Regions from separate parts of the Homo sapiens genome. Here region 2 is linked to region 1. Evidence: fine-mapped QTL for protein levels in blood plasma. A gene starts in region 1. The other region holds a variant in brackets. All regions are shown on one strand. Distances are from middle to middle. Region 1 holds the start of B4GALT2 (beta-1,4-galactosyltransferase 2). Region 2 overlaps ST3GAL3 (ST3 beta-galactoside alpha-2,3-sialyltransferase 3).

Region 1 (2,500 bases):
CTGGGAAGTTGCCCTCAGCATCCGGGGGGCCCAAATACAGACTGGATGTTTACAGAATCCCTTCCCACTGGAGCAAAACGTCAAAATACGGGGCAAGGCAGGGGACACCCCTCACTTAAGACCTCAAAGCCAGCCCCTTGGGACTGGGACCAAGACTCTGGGTCCTGCCCAGCACAGCTGGTTCTGATTCCCGGAACGGGATGCTTGGGCCTGGAGATGGGCACAGCACTGGGCATGGCAGGAAGGGGGTCTTGCCTGGGCGATGGCTCCAGCTGTGGTTCCAAGAGAGCGGCAGCCACTTCTGGCAGTGCTTCAGGGAGCAGGGTGAGTCTCACAGGCACACAGAATCACAGGGACACCCTGGTCCCAGCTGGTCACCCACACTCAGACACACAGAGAACTACAGTCACAGACACACCCGGGTGACAGTAACACACTAAGTCCCACACTCACAAACAAGGCCACTGCTCCTGGACTTCCACAGCCATACATCCAGACTCTCAGACAGCTCACACCCAGACCCACGTGCAGACATTCCCACCCTCCCTCCGGCGCAGGGGTTCTGGGTCAGGCTGGCGGCCAGGCTGAGGGGTGCGTTTGGGCGGGGCTGGCAGGCTGAACACGTGGCACCCGCGGACGGGCAGGCCGCACAGACCGGGTGGGTGTGGAGCCTGGGGGCAGGGGGAGTGGGTGGAGGGCAGCGGATGAGGCAAAGGCCAAGGGGAAACGTGTATGGAACGCCTCCCCGCGCCACGAGGCCGGGGCGAGCGAGGACAATGAGGGAGGCCGGCTGGACGCGGGCGGAGAAGCCCAGGAGGGGCGCCGGAGTGGGGGCGGGGTGGGGGCAGCCAGGCCGGGGTCTGGCCGCCGGCGCCTCTCTCACCGGCTCCTGGGTTGGGATCTCGGGGCCGCGCTCGGGGTGCCCCTCGCGGGGCTGGGTCTGGAATCTCGGGGCCCTGGGTGGGGGCCGCGCGCGCCCTCCTCTCACCCGGCGCTCGGGGCTCAGCAGGGGACGCCGCTCCGACTTGGGCAGGGCTCCCGGCTCCGGCGGCTGCGGACGGTTCCGTCCCCCATGGCCCGGCCCCGCCGCCTCCCGCCGCCCGGTCAGCGGCCACCGCGGCCCCCGGGTCGCCTCCCGCCGCCGCCGCCGCCGCCGCCGCCGCGGGCCATGGAGCCGAGCCGCCCCGGGGGGCAGGGCGGGGCCGGGCGGCCGGGCAGACCCACGGACCGGCGGACCCACGGACCACAGCGCCGCCGCCTCCCTCCCGCGCTACGGCGCCTCGGAGGGGCAGGCCCGGCCCGCGCGCCCGCGCGCGCGCCCCCGCGGCCCCCGCCTCCAGCACGCCCGCACCCGCCGCGCGCCGCTGCGAGCCCGCCCTGCCGGCGGCCGAACCCGGGCACCCAGGAGGCACGGACCTGGGAGCGCGGGAGGAAATGGGTCAGGCTCGTCCAAAGGGTGGGCTTAGAGGTCGGACCGGCGAGCGGGTGCAGACCGTGGAGTCCCTTAGCGGGGAGTGGGGATTGCATTGGAGCGCGAACTCCCCAGGAAGGGGACCTGGAGGTTGGGCGGACTCAGGCTGCGGGGCTAGGGATTTGTCAACTCTTTAATTGGACCAAGATTCAAGGTCGGCCAGCAGAGAGGGGGCAGGACCCTTAAAGGCGTGGGCTGGAGGTGGCTGGGGCTTCTGGGGTAACAGGAAACAGGGTCAGGGAAGGAGAAAACGAGATTGGATGGGGTGGGAGGAGCTGCCCTGGGCCCTGGGAACAAGGATCAGAGTAGAGGTTTCTGGGAGGGGCTGCTGCTAGAAGGACAGGACCATCACTGGAGGCAGAGACCACTGCCTAGGCTCCAGGCCTCACAAGGACGGAGATGATGGTGCCCGACTGTACAACCAGGTAAGTAGATGCTGTCAGACAATTCGGGCATGGTGGTCAGTCAGAGCCCTGAGCAAACGGGCCTAGAAGGACTACAGGCACAAACACACCCAGGGGCCCCTATCTGCACACTCCCTCATCCCCAAACAAGTCTGTTTGGGGGTTAGAGTCCACCCAGCACCCGTGCCTCCCCACCTAGGAGCAAGCTCTGTGCAGATCAGAAGTGTGCAGTCAGAAAGCTGACAAGGGATTGGCATGAGGCTGAGGCGTACAGGCCTCTTTACCCTTCCTCTGTGAACGGTGACGCAAGAGGGCAACAGAAGCTGCACTGACCCAGACAAATACCAAGTTTATTTCACAAACACTAGGAAGATGGGTTGAGGGTGGAGGTGGGGGACACAGGTGCGCAGCTGCACAGAGTCAGCAGCAGCAGCCTGCTCCCCGCACTGAGGACTCGGCCTGGACTGCAGTGCCTCCAAATCAACACGCAGCAAGAGGGGAGTGCAGGGAGGGCCCTGAACACCAAGCCTCTGAAAGGCTAAGGGACACAGCTCCAGCTGTCCCAGGAAAACCAGCAATAAATAAAAGTGAGGCACGGCCCCACCCACACATATCATCTAGTCAC
Region 2 (2,500 bases), 66 kb after region 1:
TCCAAAACGGCATTCTTTCCACCACACCATTTGTATCATCGCTGCAGTTCCCGCCTCTGGAAGTCTGAGGGGTTAGGGGTCAAAGATAAAGGAGACCTCCCCTGTCTCCTCTAAGAGCACTAAGGGAGCTCTCAGGAGTCTCTCTGGTGCCCATGTCCCATTTTTCAGAGGGGACTAAGGCCCAGAATGGTGAGGGGACTCGTCAGGGTACACGCACAGCTGGTGAGAATCTGAGCTGCGTTTGACTTCACAACCTGTTTTTCTGCACATGAGATGCCCTCTCTGAAACAATCCCTCTTGGTCTGTTCCATATGCTAAAAGTCCCGGATTTAATCACCATCTCAAATGGCAGGAAATTCGCTTATTAACTCAACCCCCTTGGCGATCTGATGGGGAGGGGAAAGCTGCCACGTCTCTTCTCATCTTTACTCTTTCCTGGGAGGAGAAATGCCTGATGGGACTGCTTAGATTTGAGGATACTGAGTGTGTCACGATTACTGGTGTGAGGTGAAAATTCTCTCCCACAAAGGCAGCCCTTCCTGAGTTGCTGCCTCTGCATGGCGGTGGGTGAGCTGGGCAGGGCCTCCTCCTTGGAGCAGGCCACCTCTGCCTCTGCCCTTCGTGGCTCACTGCGCTGAGGTCTTACTGCCCTCGGTTCTTACTCGGCCAGCAGCGGCTGAGAGTCATGTTGGGACCCTGGGGAAGGAGCCCTGTTTTAGGTCACGATCCCAGGGAGCCCTGCACTGGAGAACTGGGAGCCCGACACAGCGACAGTCCAGCGCTCCTTTTATTCTTTCTTGTCTGCCACTGTCCTGGTGTAGTTTCCTCAGAGATTTCAGGGAAAGGAGAAACAGTAAGACCAAGATATGGTTTGGGCATTTCCGTGTTTCCCCAGCCACAAAAATATCAAGTACCAACAAAACCTCAGCCTGTTTCCTAAAAAAAAAAGCTGTAACTCCTCTTCTCAGAAAAACGTCCACAGGCACATACACAGAACATCTGTGTACCACTGCAGCTTTGGGAGTGTGAAAAACAGAGGCTTAATCCCAGCTCCACATCTCTGTGACCAGGGGCACATTGTGTCCTCTCTTTAAGCCTCAAGTTCCTTGTGCATACAATAGGGCTGAGAAGACCTACTTCCCAGATAGCTGTAAGGATTAGAGATGCTGTGCGTTTTACAGCATCTGGCACGGGGTCTGGTATACAGCAAGCTCAATAAATCTTACTTATTATGATTATAGTGAGTGTCACAGAGGCCAGGAGAGTGAAG[C/T]GGAGGGTGTGGTCAGCAACATCAGCCACCGGAGAGGCCGGAACACATTCACATATCCATACCTGCACACGTACATGCATTTGAATGGGAGAGCCAGCCTTTCCCCCTGGCTCCCGGTGGGGAGGTCTGCCTGCTGCTGGAGACACTGCCAGCCCTGCTGCCAGCACACAGTCCTATTCCACAAGGCCTCTGCCTGCAAGTGTCCACATCTGGCCCAAGGCTTCTCACATCTCATTTCCCCAATCCACAGGACACAACAGAGGCCTACAAAGCCAGCCAGTGCTGCTGGCCCGGCATGGTCCAGCTTCTCCTCAAGGCCAGCTGTGGGCTGCATTCCTTGTCAAATCCCTCCTCCTTCAGGAATGTCCCTGCCTCAGTCAAGTCTGGACCCAGCTCCCCTGTGTGAAGCTGCCAGACTCCTGCTGATGCAACCTGTTCTGCTCTTGTCAGAACATCCAGGAGCAATGGGGAAAACATCTGGGAAGAAAGCACTTTCCCCACCAGGCTCCTGAGAGAATGTTTCCTGGTGTGCTCACAGGTCTGGGAATAGAGATTAACCATGGTAGGCTTTCACAGCAAGAGTAGGCAGATGTGTCCACGCCTATGCTCCCTGCTGCTACTGCCTTAGGACGGACCACCAACTCTCCTGGGGTGACTCTAACAGCCATCAGCTCTCTCTGACTCCCTCTTGCTTTCCCTTCAGTTTATTCACATCCCTGCACAAATCTGATCTCGACATTCTCAGGCTTAAAATCTTCAGTGGCTTTCCACTGCCCACTGCAACAGCTTGTGTTGACAATTAAGAGTGCAGGTCTGATTGTGAACCCTCACACCCCCAACTACTCTAACTCTGTACCCCTAAGCAAGTTCTTTACTCTTCTAAGTCTCATCATCCTCTCCTATAAAATAAGGGCAGTAATACTAGCTCTCCTTTATAGTGTTTTTGTGTTATGACAGTTTGAAGTCATGCATATAATATGTTTGGCACAAAGTCAGCTCTTGTTAGCTTCTGCTATTATTGGTCCTCAGGATAAGGTCCAGGCTCCTTGATGAGACTTTGGCTTTTAAGACCCTTCACCATCTGTCCCCTGCTCACCTAGCCTCATCTCCAGCCACTGCCACCATATCCATGTAGGTTCAACCCCTAACATTGTTGGGCCAAGGACAAAATTACAAATGGACGTATTACACACATATCACGTGTCTAAAATTTAATTCTAAATATCTGAA

What was found. A credible set is the group of variants that fine-mapping cannot tell apart. PIP is the posterior inclusion probability: the model's chance that the variant is causal. Protein levels are from the aptamer-based SomaScan assay of Sun 2018.
Region 2: its variant is the best candidate, but not a certain one, in a credible set for the plasma level of the B4GALT2 protein (Sun 2018, PIP 0.67).

Annotation. Positions count from the first base shown.
Region 1 is chr1:43,978,000-43,980,499 of GRCh38, reverse strand. It overlaps B4GALT2 (beta-1,4-galactosyltransferase 2), which reads right to left and starts at 1,290. Exons shown (of 7, transcript NM_003780.5): 1 at 989-1,290. It overlaps ATP6V0B (ATPase H+ transporting V0 subunit b), which reads right to left. Exons shown (of 8, transcript NM_004047.5): 8 at 2,205-2,500. The coding sequence ends at 2,493. RefSeq lists silencers at 917-1,026, 1,297-1,396 and enhancers at 814-1,405, 1,406-1,996, 1,997-2,500.
Region 2 is chr1:43,911,996-43,914,495 of GRCh38, reverse strand. The region is part of intron 9 of ST3GAL3 (ST3 beta-galactoside alpha-2,3-sialyltransferase 3); the gene reads right to left. Among named protein-coding and RNA genes, the nearest start is that of ARTN, 21 kb to the left of the region's middle. RefSeq lists an enhancer at 1-779. The variant C/T (reference allele first, on the strand shown) is at 1,271.